Linked DNA regions of Homo sapiens: region 2 is linked to region 1. Evidence: fine-mapped expression QTL. A gene starts in region 1. The other region holds a variant in brackets. All regions are shown on one strand. Distances are from middle to middle.

Region 1 (5,384 bases):
TACCTGAAAATGCTCAGGCTAAACACAGTGGCTCATGCATGTAATTCAGTTACTTTGGGAGACCAAGGTGGGAAGATCACTTGAGGCCAGGAGTTCAAGACCAGCCTGGGCAACATAACATGACCTCATCTCTACAAAAAAAAAAAAAAAAAAAAAAATCACTGGGCACAGTGGCACATGCCTGTAGTCCCAGCTACTTGGGAGGCTGAGGAAGGAGAATCATTTGAGACTAGGAGTTGAGGCTGCAGTGAGCCATGATTGCACCAATGCACTCCAGCTTAGGCAACAGAACAAGACCCTGTCTCTAAAAAAAAGAAAAAAAAAAGTTCAAGGGTGGTTCCAGATCCTTGAAAAATGTCTTCAGGAATATTCTCCAGGCTTTAGCTTTGCCTTCTTCTCTCTTGATTTCATTCTCAAGCAGGCAATCACTATTTTTTTGACAAGATGTCCACCAGAAGCTCCAGGCTAATTTTCTATTGGTTTAACCACCCCAGAAGAGAATTTATCCTTTCCAATACTTCTAGCATAACCCCTGTGGCTGACAATGTTGGTTCTGATAAGCTCAGCATGTAACATATACTCATTCTTGAATCACCAGCATGGTTAAAATTCTCATTGGCCAGACTTGGACCACATGCCCCACCCCTGGGGTTAGGGGTAAGAGTCAACCCCACCAGAAAACAAAGACTGAGAGTCAGGGAGGGGTGGTTCTTTAAAAGAAAACTAGGGTCTTGGTATCACAGGAGGAAGTGGATGTTGATCAAGCCAAAGTCCCAGATGCCCATGACACTATACAAAAAGAATGTACATTGTTCTGAGATGCTGATTAAGAAATACAAATCAACCTCCGCTTTTGAAAGTAGTTTTAAAAGAGGTCAACTTTCAGTGTCTTTCATGGAATTTCTGATTACTTTGAGCTAGTAATCAAGTCAACAATAAATTCTTTGTTTCTCTTGCAAACCCACATTGTCTAGGAACATTTCCTATTAATATCTATTTTAGAGTATCACATGAGTCTTGAGTCCTTCTTTCAGGAATAAAGGTAACAAACTGACAGAGATAAAAAACAAACAAAAAAAAGTGGTGGGGTAATTTTAAAATTTTTATGTCATAATTTTCTTCAGCAGGAAATTCTATTTGGCTGAGTGATTTTTGAACAGAGAGCAAATAATCATTTAGATATTTTTTTCTCTCTCTTTTTTTGAGACAGAGTCTTGTTCTATTGTCTAGGCTGGAGTGCAGTGGCGTGATCTCGGCTCACTGCAAGTTCCACCTCCCGGGTTCACGCCATTGTGCTGCCTTAACCTCCTGAGTAGCTGGAACTACAGGTGCCTGACACCATGCCTGGCTAATTTTTTGTATTTTTAGTAGAGATGGGTTTTCACCGTGTTAGCCAGGATGGTCTCGATCTCATGACCTTGTGATCTGCCCACCTTGGCCTCCCAAAGTGCTGGGATTACAGGCGTGAGCCACCGCGACTGGCCTAGATTTTTTTAAAAAGATAAAAAGCAATCACTATGTTTAGTACATGTAATGAAAAAAATATGAAAGAAACTCTCTCATGGGCTAGATACTGCCATTTTCTGGGACGGCACTATAATGTCTATCTCCAGTTCTAATTTTCTTTTTCACCTCAAAATTTTAGTATTCACTGTGACTTATATTTGATTTGTTGGATTCTTAATAATGGCTAAATTTAATTCCACTTTTTCTCTCTTTATAATCAGGGCCAGATTTTTAAAAAGAAATCCACACACTATAAATCCAAAAACCAAGTTATATTAAAAGTCAGATTTTCGACTGCATGGAGGGTCAGCGCCCCCAACTCCTGCAGTAGTCACAGGTCAACTATATATGTGTACACATGCACATACATCTAGTGTTTATGTATATTCAAATGTACATACATGTTTGCTGTATTTTTCATAATGTAATGAGTGCTTCCTATGCAGCAGGCACTGCGTTGTACTGGAGACCATCTTTGCCTCACAGAGCTTACATTTTAGTTGGGGAGATAGTGACAAACAAATGAATAAATACATCAACCAGATGATTAAAGACTGTGATCAGAGCCATGTAGGAAGTAAACACGGTGGTGAGACAGACGAAAGCTGGGAGAGCCCATTGTAGGTGGGAGGTCAGAGAACCTCCCTGAAAAGGTAACATCTTCAGTAGGGCCTCATGGAGGTGAATGATCAGTCACTACAGCAGAACAGAAGGCAGGCCAGTGTAATTGTGGTGGGGTCATTGGGGTAGGCAGGAGACAAATCAAGCAGGGCTTCATAAACCATGGTAGAAATATAAATTCAATTCTAAGGTAAACTGGAAGTCAGGAAGGGATTCATAGCCAAGAAGTGGCATAACTTGATTCAAATCTTAAAATGGTCACTTTTGCTCCTATAGAAAGAACGTGTGTCTCTATGAGAAATAAAATAGAGGCTTAAACAAGAGATTCCTCCAATATAAAAGCACTGTGGATGGGGTTAAGAGTCCCAGATGGGCCCAACAGCTCCACATCCATCAGAAACCTAGTCTTCTCTATCACCCTACCCCATTGTCTTAGAAAATGGTTTCCATTCACAGAAGTGCAAGATGGCCAGAGCAATTCCTGACATTTTGTCTGAGTGCTGAACTATAAAAGAAAGGGAACAAAAGACAACAGAAGTTTTCCCATCCCGTCCAAATCAGCTTCCTTGAAGCATCCTGTTTCAAAGTCACACAAAACACTTCTGCTTACATCTCATTGGCCAGAATTTAGTTACATGGTTACACTTAGCAGGGGAGGTGAGGAAACATGGTCTCTCACTTATGATGTCTACATCAGTAAGATACTTACAGCTATCAGAACAAGCAATCAAAATACGCTTAATGGCTCAAACATGATACAGGATTACTTCTCACTCACATGAAGTCCAAAATGATGTTCTGGATTGGCAGGTGGTTTTCCTCCAAGCAAGGATCTAAGGACCCAGGTTTCTTCTATCTTGTGCCTCTTTCACCTTCAACACTTGTCTTCCAAGATCTTGTTACTTAACTGCATTAAGCTGTGGAAAGATAAAGAGTATAGAGAACCATTGTGAGTTTCTGTAGGCCAGGACTACAGAAGTGTGAGTAGAAGGGACACATCACTTCCACTCACTAACGGCCAGAACTCAAACACACAGCTGCATATAACTGCAAGGGAGGCTGAGAAATGGCATCTGGTTGTGCCCAAGAAGAAGACCTGGGCTCATGACATGACCAGCCAGCAGCCTCTACCACTGGGGAAATGAGTCCAGCCAAAAACTAGGGTTCTGTTACAAAGAAAGAACCTTGGGAGATAGGTGGCAGTTTGTGTCACACGAGGCGACAGTGGAAACAGAAGACCAGTTCCACTAAAGAGCTAGCAAGCAAATAAATACTTGCCATCTGCCAGCAATGAGAGGGCACACTCAGAACCAGAAGATGACATAGTTCTACTGCAGATTCTGTTTCGCAATGACGCTCCTGCAAAAATATCTCAAGGATTTGCCTTCAGCCTACAAAACATTCTCAAAATGAAATTGCTATGATTAGTCAATTTAATTTTTATTTATTATTTGATTTTATTAATATTATAGAAAGCTTTTTAACAGTCTAGATGTGCTCCATAATCAGATATTGAGGCTTTACAGGTTTGGCCATACAGAGAGAAATATAGTATTAGTGACATAACATTGCTGCAAACCCAACTGAAGAAATTCCTGGTTGTGAGCTTTTACATATAATGTGTTCATTTTGAAATAATACTTTTATGTTCCAAATTTCTGTTTCCATTGATCATTTATTAATTTGTTTTTTTTATCTTGAGTTTTATTTAATCTACAAAATATACTACTGCAAGAGAGAAGGGTACTGGCTGGGGGAGTACCCAATGCTCACAACCATTCTCACTCAAATAATTAATATCTGGTGAACATTTACTATGATGTTCTAGGACAGCTTAGTGGGTCCAGCATAAGTGTAGATCCTGGAAAGGATAGACCAGCAGGCCTTAAAAATATAAAGGAGAGAATAAACAAACATAATGACACTAGGAGGAGAATGAGTAGATTTCAACATATGTGAATCAATCAGAAAGTAGAGTTAATTTAGTTAAGTGGTCAAGAGCACAATATTTGAATTATGTCGGACCTATATTCAAATTCTCAGTCAGCCACTTTCAAACTATGTAAAACTGGAGAAGTCACTTAACCCCTCTGAGCCTCACTTTCCTCATCTGTAAAAAACGGAGGATAATAACAACCTCATAAAGTGCCCAGTATAGTCAACGCCTGGATCATACTATAGTAAACACATGAAAAATCATGGCGATGATTAATAACCAAGGGGTTAGCATGACTAGTCCAGCCAGGGCTCGATGCCAGCTGCAGCTGAGTGGTAAGAAGATAGATCTTCTGTAAAGATCTTTGCAGAAACTCAAACAAGTCAGACTGGAGAGCATGCGTGACACAGTCAGGAAATCTCATGTCACATGTTTAAGTCCTAAATGTTTGACAATGTCTCTAAGCTTCCCAGGAGTTCAGAGGAAAAAGACTTGTGATAGAAGGGAGACCTGGGCTTCATGGATTGGAAGTTGACCTGAGCTTTGAAAGCTGTATAGGGTTGGAATAGGTAATAGAGGACCATTTAAGGTGTCTGTGCCTGGGACAGAGTAGTTACCCCAAAAATGGAGTAAATGAATGAAAGAAAGAGCAGACACAAAAGACTAAGACAGCAAGTCTAGTTCGTGAGTGAAGGGACTCCTTAATCATCACCTCTGGTGGGTGTTAATGTGTTGGGAGATGCATTGTCCACAGTGGGAGGAACCACGTGAGCAGAGCTTTCTAAACTGGGTGAGGAGTTTGGGTTGAAGTGCGGAGGAATTATGGAGCAGAGGAGGAAAATGATGAAAGCAGTACAAAGATCAATTCGGGGAGGGTCAGGAATGTATCGCACAAGGAAGCTGGAATGCAGAGAAGTCAGTCAGGAGTCTGCATGTGGAACTCGATGAGAAGTAAGGATGCTTGGCTGAGGGACTGGCAGTGAGACTTCAATAGGGATGGCAGTGGGCATGGGACCAGAGGCTCAATCAGGTCCTCAGATAAGGGGATGAAGAAGGAGACAAGCTTGTGGTTGGTTCATTAATGACTACAGAGTTAGCAGGAACTCTAATAGACAGGAAAATTGAAGAGAGAAAACCGAAGAGCAGGGGAAGATGGTGAGCTCAGTGATGTGTTTGTCGGCTGAGCCAGCGATGAGATACACAGGTGGAAATACCCAACAGGTACTTAGAAGTACAAAATTAGAACTCCAACACAAGAATAGAGAAGAGAGGGACTTGGAAGTCATTACGATAGAGACAGTAAACAAAGGCCATGAAATGT
Region 2 (5,384 bases), 11 kb before region 1:
AACATTTGCCAAAGCTTTCACGCTTACTGGCTTTCCCCGCAACATTCATTGCCATGAGAACCATGGAGAGGGTACAGAATGTGTGCTGAAAAATGTTCACAGGTGCTATTTGCACATGACTTGCTGTAGGACGGGGGTAAACACAACTTGGTTTCTACTGGTCAAACTTTAACTCAAGATAAACTTGCTGACTGTGAAGTGTACCGCGTGATTGTTCAGTGTGTGACAGCAAACATAAACAGTCGGGGGAGCGGGGGCGTCCCAGGGTCCAGGGACCAGTGTGTGTGTCTTTCAGGAAGGCCAGCCTGGCTGCAATCTGCTCTGGTCGGGCGGCACCCCGCAGCTTGCCTCTGCTTGTGGGTTGTCAATGGGGAACATCACATGGTTGACTGTGAATGTGTTTGGGGACTTAGAGCTCCCAGCCCACTGATTTTTAATACTCATTATGGTTTCTGCTTGGAAATCCTGAAGGACTGGCAACTGCCTAGATAGCAGTTTTGACCAATAGAATCTTAAACAGAAATGACCAGTCATGGAAAATGAGTTTTTTAAAAATTAACTTAAAAAAATTTTAGACTCAGGGTATACTTGTGCAGGTGTGTTAGAAGGGTATATTGCATAATGCTGGGGTTTGGGCTGCTATTGAATCCATCACCCCAATAGTGAACATAGTACCCAATAGGTAGTTTTTCAGCCCTTACCCCACTCCCTTTGTCTCCCCTTCTGGAATCCCCAGTGTCTACTGTTTCTGTCTTTATGTCCACGTATGCCTATTGTCTAGCTCTCATTTATAAGTGAGAACATGACATTTGGTTTTCTGTTTCTATGTTAATTCACTTAGGATAATGGCATCCAGCTGCATCCATATTGTTGCAAAGGACATGATTTTATTCTTTTTTAGGGCTGCATAATATTCCATGGTACCACATTTTCTTTATCCAGCCCACCAGGAATGGGCACTTAGGTTGATTCCATCCTCTTTGCTATTGTGACTAGTGCAACTATAAACATCTGAGTGCAGGTGTCTTTTTGACATAACGATTTCTGTTCCTTTGGGTAGTTACCCAGTAGTGGGGTTGCTGGGTCAAATGGTAGTTCTATTTTTAGTTATTTGAGAAATCTCCATACTGTTTTCCATAGGGGATGAACTAATTTACATTCCCAATAACAGTGTATAAGCATTCCTTTTTCTCCACATCCTTGCCAGCAGCTGTAATTTATTGATTTTTTTTTTTTTTGAGACGTAGTCTTGCTCTGTCTCCCAGGCTGCAGTGCAGTGGTGTGATCTCAGCTCACTGCAACCTCCACCTCCCAGGTTCAAGTGATTCTTCTGCCTCGGCCTCCCGAGTGGTTGGGACTACAGGCACACGCCACCAGGCCTGGCTAATTTTTGTATTTTTAGTAGAGACGGGGTTTCACCATATTGGTCAGGCTGGTCTTGAACTCCTGATCTCGTGATCCGCCCACCTCGGCCTCCCAAAGTGCTGGGATTACAGGCTTGAGGCACCACCCCCAGCCTATTGACTTTTTAATAGCCATTCTCACTGGTGTGAGATGGTATCTCATTGTGGTTTTAATTTGCATTTCTCTGATGATTAGTGATATTGAGTATTTTCTCATATGTTTGTTGGCCACTTGCATGTATTCTTTTGAGATGTGTCTATTCATGTCCTTTGCCCACTTGGAAAATGAGTTTTATAAACCAATTGGGAAAAGAGGAAAGTGTCATCAATAGGGAGATAGCACCTGAGATAGATTTTGGAGGATATGACTTCTCTGAGATCAAACTTGCCTTTGATACACTGGGAACATTTTTATGAGCATAAAAATTCTAAAAGAGACTTGAAATATTTTTCTCTCATGTCATTTCAATCCATGGAGCTATTAAAATTTTCAAAACTTCAGGGCAAGAAAGATATATATCATCCGAATGTAAGCATTTGAGTAAGCAATCTCTGCCAGGGGTGGGGCGGGTAGGTTGACAATACTTAATATATATTTTTATTTACATAGAACTGAGCCATTGCTAGCCTCACATATCTAGAAAATAGCTTAGAAACAATGAATTTTTTAAAAAATAAAACAACACTTGAGAGACGCTTTTCTTATGCTTTTCTCAGAGAAGAACCAGCCCTCAGTTCCTGACTTGAAAAGCATTTATGTTTATTGCACACATATCCTTAACCAGTGTGAGTTTCTCTATGCCCACAGCAATTTAGAAATAGAAAATCAGCATTAGGGAGAAGGCTTTGCATAGTCTTGCACACTAACAAGAGGTAACTGCTGATGGCCCAAAGAAGAGAGCAACAGAAAAAAAATGTAAAAAACAGACAGGCACAAGAATTCCAAAAGGCACAGTAATTTGGGACCTCTCAGGTGTGCAGGCAAATATTTCTCTCCCTCTCTCTTTCTCTCTCTCTCTCTCT[C/G]TCTCTGTGTGTGTGTGTGTGTGTGTGTGTCTTTCTCTCTCACTTCTCTCTCTCTCTCCCCCCAACCATGGCCTAAACCTATTATTTTTTATCCGATAGCAGTGAAATCAGTTCTTTTTGTGATAATGTTACAACCAAGAAAAGAAAAAAATAAGAAGTTAAATAAAGTTCCTCCACTCTTTAAGAAAGCAGGGGCGGTTGAGTTACATTTTAGAAAGTGTTCTGCCAAAATCTTCTCTTTTGTTCCTTCTTTATTCCCTTCCTCCCTCCATTCCTTTTTTCTTTTTCTTTCTTTCTTTCTTTCTTTCTTTCTTTCTTTCTTTCTTTCTTTCTTTCTCTTTTCTTTCTTTCTTTTCCTCCCTCCCTCCCTTCCTTCCTTCCTTCCTCCCTCACTCTCCCTCTCTTTCTTTCTCTTTCTTTCTTTCCTTCCCTTCCTTCCTTCCTTTCTCCCTCCCTCCCTCCTTCTCTCTCCCCCTTTCTTTTTTCTCTTTCTTTCTTTTTCTTTCTTTCTCTCTTTCTTTTTCTTCTTTCTTTCTTTCTTTCTTTCTTTTTTCTTTCTTTCTTTCTTTCTTTCTTTTTCTTTCTCTCTCTCTCCCTCCCTCCCTCTCCTTCCTTCTTCCCTCCCTCTCTGCCCACCTCCCTTCTTTCCTTCCTTCCTTTCTTTCTTTTGGTGCTTTGAAGGACCAGCTCTTACTTGCCTAGAACTCAGCAATCCAGAATGGCTACAAAGCAAGCTGAGATTTTATGGTGTTTGTGCCATCATTTGCCAGTATATAGATGTGGGATTACACACTGTGTGATCAATGTTAGTTCCTATCCTTTAAGAATCGTCTCATGATTTTTAAGTTCCTGAACAGCCGAACGATTGTTGAAGATACTGTTACTTGAAAGGAAAAGAAATAAGGAGAAAAAAAATGAATGGAGGGAATTGTTAGATGATATGTTAGAACAAACATGACATCATCAACATAGTGGGAGGGTAAAAGGGAGTTCCCTTAAGGCACAAACAAAATTTCACCGTCCCATTTATTTTTACTTTTAGTTTAGTTCACAGACTTCAGAACCTGCTCATTATCACCAAATGCTCTTTCAAATGATGAAGTACTGAAAGAAAAACCTAAGTCACCTCCACATATGATATATAAGAAATGTTGGCACATCCAGATCTTCCTAAGGAAAGAGGGTTTGACTACAGCAATGTTGAATGCAAGCCTTATCAATTGCATCCTTCCTTCCTTCTTCCCACTCATAATACACACATATGCCCCTTGTATGTTAGGAACATTGTACTGGAGGGAATGTATAAAAACTCTAAGTTAATTCTTTTCTGAGGGCTTGCTATCAGCCAGGTACAGGGTTAAAGTACAAATACTTGATTATCACTTGACCACACCCTTGTGAGGAAACTGATGCTCAAGAAATTTAAGTAAAGTTTCTGAAAGACACACAGCTTGCAAACAACAGAGATGGGATTTAAAACAAGGTTGTTTATTAACCACTGGGCTCCACTACCTGCCAATGGGGTGTAAATAGTGATCCCTGGAAATAAATGACCCCCATTTTCTTAAAGGGCAGGGATAGGTTGAGAAAAATAGCCACTTTGATGGTATAGACCTGGAATGTGTGGAGGACCTTTGCACTACGCAGAATGGAATTGCTGGGCCCACTGATGTCGCTTAATAATTGACAGATGGCCTGTCTAAGTGACTCACATGCAACTCAGATTTCAGGGCTGGAAAGGCCATGGGCTAATGTGGAAAGGAGGTGCATCCCTGGGCAGGTTCTGTGGCCAACCACCCTGTTTAGACAGCTCTCCGTTCACAGAGAGCTTTCTGCTACAGTGAGCAAAATGTTTACAACCTGATGCCAACTTTTATCATACATCGAGAGGCTGCCTGTAACCAAATCACCCCTGCCCTGGGCAATGTGCTCTGTGTACAGATCTCCATCAGTCACACAACAGGTGCTTAATTCTTGGTGACAAAAGGTGACCTCAATTTCTTTAAAGATATAGCAAGCCCTAAGGATCCAATTATATGGAGATTGGGCCAAGTGATCCTAGAGGCCTTGCCTTCCACTATTTTGAGGTATTTACAAAATGCAGATAAAGGAATTGGAAAATAGAAATATGTAAACTGGGAGAAGAGAGAGAGAGGGAGAAATTGACTTCTGAAATTATTAGCCTGTCAACCTAACATTGGAGAAATATAGCAACCATTGATGAAAATATCAAGTTGTCAGCACTTAAACAGAGTGCTAAGAAAGCACTAAGCTGTACAACCATGTAACACACCAAGCCTCTTGGACTAACACAATTTCCTTATGAGACAAAATGGAATATGATGAAGCTGCAAATGCTTTGCCTCCACACTTCAGTGAGACCAGGCTAAGCAGGTGGGCCTGAGTCCTAGATACTTGGGCAAAGGTTAGACTCCTTAGGAGTAAGCTTGGGCGAGTTTGCCAAATCTTTGGTAATGGTTCATTCTTTAGCATTACAGGACAGTCACAAGTACCTAGAACATGAGCTTCTTGCCTTCACCTTGCAGACCTGACATTGTTGCTTTTTTGTGGTCTCCTGACTCTTAGGCGTAAAGTCAGAGGCCAACACTTATTGAGTAAGTGCTCAATAACACTGGTTGATGGCAATAATAGGTGCTCTGTAAGTACCTGCTCTTTGAGTCATTAATGCTTGAAAACACAGTATTTAATCATAATACTCCACCTCACTACACTAAAGCCAAAACACGGTGTCCACATTTCTGATTTAGGGAGAACATTTGTCATTTTTTAAAAAAGTATATAAATACCATAACCTTCAAAATTATTGAGATTTTTGACATTAAAAGCAATACAGAGTCATTGTAGAAAAATCTTAGAACACTAAAATATAGGCCAGGCGCAGTGGCTCACGCCTGTAATCCCAACAGTTTGGGAGGCCAAGCAGGGTGGATCATGAGG

Alleles and levels. Positions count from the first base shown, and alleles are read on the strand shown. Sizes are in standard deviations (SD) of each study's normalised expression.
For the expression in subcutaneous fat of the gene that starts at base 3,342 in region 1, allele C in region 2 goes with a lower level than allele G (moderate effect, 0.44 SD a copy in TwinsUK).

What was found. PIP is the estimated chance that this variant, and not a neighbour inherited with it, causes the effect. A credible set is the group of variants that fine-mapping cannot tell apart.
Region 2: its variant is the best candidate, but not a certain one, in a credible set for the expression of LINC00184 in subcutaneous fat (TwinsUK, PIP 0.81).

The regions. Positions count from the first base shown.
Region 1 is chr1:234,627,269-234,632,652 of GRCh38, reverse strand. LINC00184 (long intergenic non-protein coding RNA 184) reads right to left here and starts at 3,342. Exons shown (of 2, transcript NR_033927.1): 1 at 2,906-3,342.
Region 2 is chr1:234,638,143-234,643,526 of GRCh38, reverse strand. No RefSeq gene overlaps it. Among named protein-coding and RNA genes, the nearest start is that of LINC00184, 12 kb to the right of the region's middle. RefSeq lists an enhancer at 110-404 and a silencer at 110-404. The variant C/G (reference allele first, on the strand shown) is at 2,427.